Regions from separate parts of the Homo sapiens genome. Here region 2 is linked to region 1. Evidence: fine-mapped expression QTL. A gene starts in region 1. The other region holds a variant in brackets. All regions are shown on one strand. Distances are between the middles of the regions. Region 1 holds the start of C19orf81 (chromosome 19 open reading frame 81). Region 2 overlaps SYT3 (synaptotagmin 3).

Region 1 (5,365 bases):
ATGTATTTAATACATTTAAATGTATATGTGTAATTAAATTAACATAAGCATAAACTTAAAAATAAGTACTTATTGAAAAATTGAGGAAATGCAACCATTTCAAGCTTTTTTTTTTTTCCTTTGGTGACAGAGTCTCACTGTGTTGCCCAGGTTGGAGGGTCATGGTGCAGTCATAGCTCACTGCAGCCAGGAACTCCTGGGCTTAAGGGATCTTCCTGTCTCAGCCTCCCAAGTAGCTGGTTAAATTTTTTTAACAGGCATCTCAGAGGGCCCCTGTGTGCCTTGGAGGATGCTGGGGACCAAGAGATGAATGAGACACACCTCTGCCCTTTCAGAACTCTCAGATAAAGGGCAATGTGTGTTTCAATGAAAGTGTTACAAGGTGGAGGGAAAGCCCAGTCTCCCGGTCTAGGGGCAATCAGGGAAGGCTCTCTAGAGGAGGTGTCCACAGTGAGACCTAAAGAATAAGAAGGTATTTACCAAATAAAGAGGTGACAGAGAGAAGGATGTTTCCCATGAAGGGCCTAGCATGGGCCAAGGTTTTTGAGCAAAAGAGAAGAGAGTCACCTGCAAGAACTTCCCAGAATTCCCTTGAGCCCCAAGACTAAAGAGCGCTTATTGCCATTGGAGGCTATGAATGATCTGTGAGATGGCGTGTTTCACGTCTCCTCTCCCAGCATGAGAACAAGCCAGGCCGTTTCATCCATTAGGCACTACAGGCAAAATGCTTGGGACCCAGGGGCTTTCTAATGGCCTATGCTGAAGTTTGCAACCTGATCAACTAAAAAATGTGATTGGTTCCACAACGCTGCAAAGAAAACAGCAAAATCGAAATGAACAAACGTCGATCAACAAAACTAGCCAACTGGTCGACTCAACTCCACTTGACTTTTCTGGAGCTACATATAAATTACATGTCACGTGGGTGCCTCAGTCTAGGCTAGAGATGGTGCATTGTGGGGTCTCCAAAAGAAAGATGCCTTCAAAAGCACTAAAAGAGACCTAAAGGCAGAGAAACAACGCCTGTTTTGCCATCAGGGCATTTGTTCGGCCTCGAAGGCTGAGGTGGGAGGATCACTTGAGCCAGGAGCTCAAGGCTGCAGTGAGTTTTGGTTTTGGGTGTTTTTGTTTGTTTGTTTGTTTGTTTTGTTTTTTGAGACAGAGTCTCCCTCCATCACCCAGGCTGGAGTGCAGTGGCACAATCTTGGCTCGCTGCAGCCTCTGCCTCCTGGGTTCAAGCGATTCTCCTGCCTCAGCCTCCCTAGTAACTGGGATTACAGGCACCCGGCACCACACCTGGCTAATTTTTGTATTTTTAGAGATGGGGTTTCACCATGTTGGCCAGGCTGGCTGGCCTTGAACTCCTGACCTCAGGTGATCCACTCACCTCGGCCTCCAAAGTGCTGGGATTATAGGCGTGAGCCACCACACCCAGTCCTGAGTTTGGTTTTCTATTACCTGCAGTTACATGCATCCTCACTGAGATACTACTCCATAAATGTTGAATGAGTGTAACTGCATGAGCTGTGCTACAGCACAGAGTGCTAGCAGGAAGTGCTGGGCTAGGAGCCTGAAGTTGTCAGCAGGGGTCAGACCACACAGGGCCTCAAAAGCCAGGCTGGAGCTTTGGGTCTCTGTCCTAGAGGTGACAGGAAGCTAGGAAGTGTTATGAGCAAGGGACAGCCAGGATCACTGCAGGAAGTCAGAGAGACCTCTCTGGAGCCATGGAGGGATAGGTAGGAGGAGAGAAACTGGGGACCAGGGAGGAGGTGAGGAGAGGGTCCACATGGAAGAGGATGAGACCTGGGACAGGGCTGCGGGGACAGAGAGGAAGGAATGGGGAAGGGAGAGTCAGAGGGCAGGAAGATAGGGCCTGATGGGCTGTGGGAGGGAATTGTGGGAGGTGGAAGGATGGCACCAGTGACTGGGTTGGCGGTGGGGCCATTTGAAAATGGAAACCAGGAAGGAGGAGAGCAGCTTTGGGGGAAGATGCTGAGCTCAGGGTGGGAGACAAGACAGTGAGGTTACCTAGGAGAAGAATGGCCTCAGAGGTGTTGCTTAGGCCCCAGAGGCTCATGGGAAATGTAGTTCTGAGTCCAGGGCATTGGCCAAGGAACTGCAGAGGCTCATGGGAAATGTAGTTTGAGGTCCAAGGGGGCCGCTCTCCAGGAATCTGGTGAATCCAGGAATGCTAGGGATGGCTTTCACTTTGGAGTGCCAGTGACTCGCTTAAGGCCACACTGTGAGCCCGGGCTACTACGCACTGCCTGGATGGAGGAAGTCCACCCCTTCCCCCAAAGACACAGCTCAGTACCTGCCTTCCTGTGCATGGTGGGGCTGCCCATGGCAGGGAAGCACACGGGCTCCACCTCTGGCTGCATCCTGGGAAGGTGGGTGAGGGATGTCTCAGGAAGGTGGCAAGAGAGGCTCTGCCTGGGCCACCCACCCCAGCTCCTTCTCCCCACCGCTGCCTCCTCTACCTCCTCTTTGAAGCCCCGGGGTAGAATTACAGAGGAACTGGAAGGCTGAGACCATGTGGAGATCTGGGTTCCCCTGACCTCAGGGACTCCCTGTGTGCCCCAATCCCTTCTTTCCCATTTCCCTGTTTTTCCTCCTATCTCTCTCTGTCTCCTAGAGTCCCTTTCCCCACCCCTCTCTCTCCACCTCCCTTCCTCATTCTCTCCCCATCTCTCTGCCCCCCTGCCTCCTCCCCTCTGTCCCCACGTCTCCACCACTCTTTTGCTTGATTTCTCTGCCCTCCTCCTCCCTCCTTCTCTCCTGGGCTCCATCTCTTCAGTCTCCATCAGTTTCCCCAGCATCTCCCCAGGCCCCCGTCCCTCCTTGTCTTCATCGTTTTCTGCCTCTCCCTAACCCCGTCACCCTCTCTCTGTCTTCCCACCTCTCACCAGTCTCCTTGCCCCATCTCTATCCTCTCCTAGCTGCCTCCACTGCCCCCTTGAGGCCCCCTCCCCTCTGTCATCCCCTTTCTGTTCCCACTTGCCCTCTGCTCATCCCTGCCCCAGCCAGGAACTGGTTAGAAACAGGCGAGATTCCAACGAAAGTGGGTTCTCTAGTGGGGAGGGGATGGTGGGCAGGGGGCCTGGTTGCCATGGTGCCTCCAGAGGGAGGGGGAGGGGTGGGGGCCTGGATTCCTGGGTCTGAGGGAGGAGGGCCTGGGGTCTGGACTCCTGGGTCTGAGGGAGGAGAGGATGGGGGCCTGGACTTCTGGGTCTGGGGTCTCACGGGGCCTCTCGTGCTAGAGAGAAGGGGTCTAGCCGTGTAGGTGCCTGTTCAGCATCCCTTTCTCTGGGTCTGCAGAGCTCTCTGCAGGAATTGTGGGAGAGGAAGCTGGACCTTCGCTTATTTGTTTTGTCTGTCCTTGCAGTCTTTGTCTCTGTTACTTGTATCTCTTTCTCTTCCTCTTTCTCCACATCCAGATGGTCTCTGGACTGTCTGTTGTTCCTGCTTACTAAGTATTCGTTCTAGGTGGTGGCACCTTGATTTCCTCAGTGATTTGTTCAGTGGCGAGCTTAAGAATCAATCTAGGCTACAAAGTCAACCTTTGGACTTTTGCTGGACCTGTTAGAAAACAGGGTTTTTCCCCTGTGGTTTTGGGGCTGGTCAGAGCCAGGGTTGGAGCTCTCGGTGCTACCACATCACCATGCAGGGAGATAACTTGCCTGAGAGCAAAGACAACACGAGGGAAGCATAGCCCAAAGATACAGACAGTTGGATTCCTGGAGATGATTGGAACACCTGGATCCAGCAATGCCTGAAGCCCTCATCCAATCAATAAACTTCCTTTTATGCTTAGGTCAATTTGATTTGCGTTTCCGTTATTAGCAATTAAAACAGTCCAGATTGAAATAGTCTTACTCAGTTCTGGGGGCCCTGACCCCCTCCTGGCATCTTCACATCTGCTTCTCTCCCATCAAGCTGTCTTCCATTTCCAGCTGGCAATTTTATCTCAGCGGGATGGAGGACATGATTGCCTTGACCACAGGCACACCTGACCCTCACAGCCTATCTGTCTCCAAGTTCTATTCCTTCTGCCTCTCCTTCCTCTCCTCTCTACTCCCATAGCTCTAGCAGCCACTCAGACCTCGTCCTCTCCTGCTGGGACCCTTGCCCCAGCCTCCTTTTTTGTTTGTTTGTTTTTGAGACAGGGTCTCACTGTGTCCCCCAGGCTGGAGTGCAGCGGTATAACAGCCTTGACCTCCCAGGCTCAAGCAATCCTCCCACCTCAGTCTCCCGAGTAATGGGGACCACAGGCCCACACCACTACGCCCAGCTATTTATTTTTTTTAAGATGGAGTCTCACCGTGTTGCCCAAGCTGGTCTCAAACTCTGGGGCTCAAGCAATCCTCCCACCTCAGCCTCCCAAAGTGCTGGGATTACAGGTGTGAGCCACCACACCTGGCCCAGCCTCCTGGCCGCCCCATCCTCCATTCTCTCGCCCTCATTCCTCTCCCCACAAGTGAGGCTCCAGAGTGGTCTTTCTGTGCCCGGAACTGACCTGCCCCTGCCCTGCTCACGGCCCTCCCAGGGCTCCCCAGTGCCTTAGACAAACTTTCAGCCCCTCACCTGGACTGAAAGAGCTGCATGATCTAACCTCACCTCCCTCTCCCAACCTCACCCCTCCAAACATTCTCCACCTACCCTTTATTAATTATTTTATATAAATAATCCCTCCCGCAGCCAGGCGCGGTGGCTCACACCTGTAATCCCAGCAGTTTGGGAGGCCGAGACGGGCGGATCACGAGGTCAGGAGATCAAGACCATCCTGGCTAACACGGTGAAACCCCGTCTCTACTGAAAATACAAAAAATTAGCCGGGTGTGGTGGCGGGCACCTGTAGTCCCAGCTACTTGGGAGGCTGAGGCAGGAGAATGGCGTGAGCCCGGGAAGCAGAGCTTGCAGTGAGCCGAGATCGCGCCACTGCACTCCAGCCTGGGCGACAAAGCAAGACTCTGTCTCAAACAAAATAATAAATAAATAAATAAATAAATAAATAATCCCTCCCACACATCCCACCTTATTTCTGTCTCCACTCTTTCCATATGCTGTGTCTTCTGCCTGGAATGCTCTTCCAACCTTTCCCCATGTCCCCAAATGCCCTCATCTTTTAATAAGAAGCTCAAGTGCCCTCTCCTCCAGGAAGCCCTCTCTGACTCATCCTCCTACCAGTTGTGTTTTCTGTCTCCTCCCTCCGACTGTTTTTTTATCTGCTCCTTCTCCAGACCTCTGAACACTGCCCTCCGCCCCATCTGTCTTGCTCAGAAATTTGTTTCCTGACTCATCTCTGGCTCTCTGGCATCACGCCACAAGGGCCAGGCTTCTGGGAAGTTCAGGACACATGAGTTGA
Region 2 (5,365 bases), 21 kb after region 1:
CCTTTGCACTCCAGCCTGGGTGACAAGAGCAAAACTTCGTCTCAAAAGAAAAGGAAAGAAGGAAGGAAGGAAAGAAGGGAGGGAGGGAGGGAGGGAGGGAGAGAAGGAATGCCCCCCAGATACCAATGGGGAATCTGAGGCTCAGAGAGCACAGTGGCTTCCTCAAGCTCACACAGTGAGCAAAGGAGGGGACTTGTGGCCACCTGGCTGGGGGATGGGGGGAAAGGCAGGGAGGAGTCTCCCAGGTCTCTGCATGCAGTCGAAGATCAGAGCCACTGACCTCACCTTGGTCTCCCCCCAACCCCCTACAGGTACCCAGCCCTGCCCCGACCCCTCACCCAGCAGACTCTGACCTCCCAGCCGGACCCCAGCAGTGAGGAGCGGCCACCTGCCCTGCCCTTACCCCTGCCTGGAGGCGAGGAAAAAGCCAAACTCATTGGGCAGATTAAGCCAGAGCTGTACCAGGGGACTGGCCCTGGTGGCCGGCGGAGCGGTGGGGGCCCAGGCTCTGGAGAGGCAGGCACAGGGGCACCCTGTGGCCGTATCAGCTTCGCCCTGCGGTACCTCTATGGCTCGGACCAGCTGGTGGTGAGGATCCTGCAGGCCCTGGACCTCCCTGCCAAGGACTCCAACGGCTTCTCAGACCCCTACGTCAAGATCTACCTGCTGCCTGACCGCAAGAAAAAGTTTCAGACCAAGGTCCGGAGCAGCGGGCTGGACACCGGGTTCCCACAGAGAGGGAGCTAGGGCTCTGGACTCCCGGGTCTGAGGGAGGAGGGGCTGGGGGCCTGGACTCCCGGGTCTGAGGGAGGAGGGGCTGGGGGCCTGGACTCCCGGGTCTGAGGGAGGAGGGGCTGGGGGCCTGGACTCCTGGGTCTGAGGGAGGAGGGGCTGGGGGCTGGACTCCTGGATCCTGTGGAGGAGGGGCTTATGGGCACGGTGTCTGTCTCCTGTCGCCCACCACCACCAGGTGCACAGGAAGACCCTGAACCCCGTCTTCAATGAGACGTTTCAATTCTCGGTGCCCCTGGCCGAGCTGGCCCAACGCAAACTGCACTTCAGCGTCTATGACTTTGACCGCTTCTCGCGGCACGACCTCATCGGCCAGGTGGTGCTGGACAACCTCCTGGAGCTGGCCGAGCAGCCCCCTGACCGCCCGCTCTGGAGGGACATCGTGGAGGGCGGCTCGGTCAGTGGCCCTCTCCCCTGACCTTCCCCTTCCCAGGGCCCTGAGACCCCCCGGGTTGCAAGCCCCCTGCCCTCAGAGTTCATAACTTCCTCACTTCTTGTCCCCACATTTTTCTGTTAAAATGTATCACACTGGGGAAGACTGCAAACTTACAGGCAAGAATAGAGAATGAGCCGGGCGCGGTAGCTCATGCCTATAATCCCAGCACTTTGGGAGGCCAGGTGGGCAGATCACTTGAGGTTGGGAGTTCGAGACCAGCCTGGCCAACATGGAGAAACCCCATCTCTACTAAAAATACAAAAATTAGCCGGGCATGGTGGCACATGCCTGTAATCCCAGCTACTTAGGAGGATGAGGCAGGAGAATCGCTTGCACCAGGAAGTGGAGGTTGTGGTGAGCAGAGATCATGCCATTGCACTCCAGCGTAGGCAACAAGAGCGAAACTCCGTCTCAAAAAAAAAAAAAAAAGAACAGATAATGATACAGTGGACACCATTCCTCTCCTCAACATCGCCAAATGTTAGCATCAGGTCTGGATCCGATTTTCCAACCTCTCACCCGCTTTGCCATAGGATGCCTTCCTGCCTCAACCCCATGACTTCTCCCCTCTCACCCCAGACTTCTTACCTTCCTAACTTCCTGACTTTCCAATGACTGGACTTCTGGAAGCCCCAGTCCCTCTCTAATCTCTGAACTTCTGAAAGCCCCAATCCCTCTCTAATCTCTGAACTTCTGAATTTTCCCAACCCCTGACATTGGAACTCTTTCATATTCTGACCCTCTGTTTTTTCATGGTCCCTGCCCGAATGCTGATAGCTTGATCCCCCAGGCCTCAGCCATCCTGGGATCCCCAATATGCAGACACTCCTCAGTTCTCCCAGCATCCAGATTATAGGGCCCAATGGCTTCTTCCTTATTCCTTGCGACCCCTGCCCTCTGGTATCTCATTCTCCCTGTACCTCCAATCCCTCCCCAGCCCCATTCTTAGGTACTTCTTGTGTGTGTGTCCTGAGCTCTTCTGCCCCACCAAATCTCAGATCCTCAACTCTACAGCGCCCCCGCTCCAACCTAATTTGTGGATTATCCAACATTCCAGTTCTCTGCCAATCTGGGGTAGCTGTGTGTGTGTTGTGGGGAGGGCGGCCTTCATATCAGGAGAGGACTAGACCTCCTCAAGGTTCTTTCCTTTTCTGAGCCTCAGTTTCCCCATCTGTTCAATGACAGATGTCCAGTTGAGCTGGGTGCCAGGTAGGCTTTTTGGGTAGCTCTTTGGGTAGGCTTCTTCATGGGGCCCTCCCCAGCCTGCCTGCTTGGCCCCCAAGCCCAGCCTTTGAGATTGAAGTGCCCAGTTCCAAGGTCCCAGGGCCCCTGTGTATTCCACCAGCTCCTACTCCCAGTCATCACCCATGGCAGCCCCATGCCAGGGCCTTCTCTCTGTATCCATGCTGGCCTAATTCTTGTGCTCACCCTTCTCATTTTCTCTCTCCATCATCATCACTTGAGGTTTTCCTCACTCATTCCATTGATTCATACATTCTCTCTCTCTCATTTTTTTTTTTTTTTTTTTGAGACAGAGTCTCTCTCTGTCACCCAGGCTGGAGTACAGTGGCGCAATCTCAGCTCACTGCAACCTCCACCTCC[C/T]GGGTTCAAGTGATTGTGATTCTCATGCTTCAGTCACCCAAGTAGCTGGGATTACAGGCACCTGCCACCATGCCCGGCTAATTTTTGTATTTTTAGTAGAGACAGGGTTTCGCCATGCTGGCCAGGCTGGTCTCGAACTCCTGAGCTCAGGTTAACCGCCCACCTCAGCCTCCCAAAGTGCTGGGATTACAGGCATCAGCCACTGCACCCAGCCTTCATTCATTTCTTCAACCACTGTTTTTTTCAGGAGCAGGGCCTGGGGACCCCAGGCAGCCCTCGGCAGCTCCAGGTCTAGATGGTCGGGCCTTGTGTCAGGGGCCAGGGTTATGGGGAGGCACAGGAGGAGCCTCTGCAGGGCTGTGGGGGATCTGGGAGCTTGTGGAACGAGGGGAGGCTCAAAGGCCAAGGAGAGATAGAGGGAAGAGTGTTCTGGCAGAGGGACAGCCTGGGCAGATGCCCTGAGGGGAATGAGTAGGGAGTCCTGGGCACAGTTGGGAGGCCGCAGGGCTAGGCCAGGTTGGTCAAAGCTCCCAGCTAGCTCCAGCGTGGCTCCAGCCTGTGTGTCAGGGTTGGGGGCAGTCCTGGAAACTTCGGTGGAGGTTGATGAATCTCCTGCCCTCTCTCAGGCTGGTTTATGTGTGTGTGTCTGCTTGGTCTTTGTCCCACTCTGTCTGAGTCAGCCTCTCTCTCTCTCTCTCTCTTTCTCTTGGTGCAGGGAGTAGGGTATCTGAGTCTAGGTTTCTCTCTCGCTCTCTGGTCTCTGCCCCTCCACTCTAATTCTAGGTAACTATCACTCTCTCTGGGTCTTTATGCACCCCCAACCCACTGTCTCTGTCCCTCTCTCTCTCTGGGCCTCTGTCTCTCTCTGAGTCTCTCTCTATATATATCTCTCTCTCTTTCTCTCTCTGGGTCTCTGTACCCCCTGTCTCTGGGCTTCTGTCTCTCTCTGGGTCTCTATCTCTCTGTCTCTGGGTCTCTGTCCCCCTCTCTGTCTGGGTCTCTGCCCCTTTCTCTCTCTGGGTCTGTCCTCCTCTCTCTGGGTCTCTGTCCCCCTCTCTTTCTGGGCCTCTGTCCTCCTCTCTCTCTGGGCTTCTGTCCTCCTCTCTCTCTGGGTCTCTGTCCTCCTCTCTGGGTCTCTGTCCCCCCCCCTCTCTCTCTGGGCCTCTGTCCCCCTCTCTCTCTGGGTCTCTGTCTCCCTCTCTTTCTGGGTCTCTGTCTCCCTCTCTCTGGGTCTCTCTCTGTGTCTGTCTCTGGGCCTCTGTCCCTCTGACTTGAGAACTTTGCCTGTGGGTCTGTCTTTCCAGCTGTATCCCTCCGTGTTTTGGCTTCTGTCTCAGTCTATTTCTCTTTGTGTTTTCTCTCTCTCTCACCTTCTCTGTCTCTCCCCTCCTCTCTCTCTCCCCTCACTCATGCTTCTTCCAATCTTTCCTGCAGAACAAATAAGCTTTGATGGTCATGGGCAGCTGTGGCCAGGGAATTACTGGGCCTTGTCCCAAGAGTCAGATTGCTAAGTGGATGGGAAGCCTGAGCCCTGGATGTCAGGGTGTAAAGCAGGAGGCTCCGACCGGAGAGAAAATCAGGGAGAGTTGAAGAGGGGCTGAGGCAAGATATCGCTGACCTTTTCCCCAACTGCAGGAAAAAGCAGATCTTGGGGAGCTCAACTTCTCACTCTGCTACCTCCCCACGGCCGGGCGCCTCACCGTGACCATCATCAAAGCCTCTAACCTCAAAGCGATGGACCTCACTGGCTTCTCAGGTGAGGGTCCTGGGTCTGAGGGAGGAGGGCTGGGGGCCTGGACTCCTGGGTCTGAGGGAGGAGGGGCCAGGGGCCTGGACTCCTGGGTCTGAGGGAGGAGGAGCTGGGGATCTGGACTCCTGGGTCTGAGGGAGGAGGGGCCAGGGGCCTGGACTCCTGGGTCGGAGAGAGGAGGACCTGGGGTCTGGACTCTTGGGCCTGAGGAAGGAGGGACTGGGGGCCTGGGGCCCCGGACCTCTGGGTCTGAGGGAGGAGGGGCTCGGGGCCTGGGGTCCTGGACCCCTAGGTCTGAGGGAGTGAGTCTCTGTTCCTTACTTCATTGCTGTTCCCAGACCCCTACGTGAAGGCCTCCCTGATCAGCGAGGGGCGGCGTCTGAAGAAGCGGAAAACCTCCATCAAGAAGAACACGCTGAACCCCACCTATAATGAGGCGCTGGTGTTCGACGTGGCCCCCGAGAGCGTGGAGAACGTGGGGCTCAGCATCGCCGTGGTAGACTACGACTGGTGAGGGGCGCGGCCCGGGCGGGGGTCAGGCAGGAGGGCTGGGGTGGGGACAGGCCCTCCCACCACCCTCCACGGTCCTCACTGACCCCAACCCCCAGCATCGGGCACAACGAGGTGATCGGCGTGTGCCGTGTGGGCCCCGACGCTGCCGACCCGCACGGCCGCGAGCACTGGGCAGAGATGCTGGCCAATCCCCGCAAGCCCGTGGAGCACTGGCATCAGCTAGTGGAGGTGAGTAGGGGTCCCACACCGACCCCTGACAAGCACCCGTGCAC

The links. PIP is the estimated chance that this variant, and not a neighbour inherited with it, causes the effect. A credible set is the group of variants that fine-mapping cannot tell apart.
Region 2: its variant is the best candidate, but not a certain one, in a credible set for the expression of C19orf81 in prostate (GTEx, PIP 0.69).

The regions. Positions count from the first base shown.
Region 1 is chr19:50,646,461-50,651,825 of GRCh38, reverse strand. It overlaps C19orf81 (chromosome 19 open reading frame 81), which reads right to left and starts at 2,381. Exons shown (of 5, transcript NM_001195076.2): 1 at 2,315-2,381. The coding sequence starts at 2,381. It also overlaps a transcript of SYT3 not described here. RefSeq lists enhancers at 3,448-3,497, 5,120-5,365.
Region 2 is chr19:50,625,118-50,630,482 of GRCh38, reverse strand. SYT3 (synaptotagmin 3) reads left to right here. Exons shown (of 11, transcript NM_001160329.2): 5 at 312-699; 6 at 971-1,189; 7 at 4,466-4,586; 8 at 4,919-5,090; 9 at 5,189-5,321. Among named protein-coding and RNA genes, the nearest start is that of SYT3, 12 kb to the left of the region's middle. The variant C/T (reference allele first, on the strand shown) is at 2,831.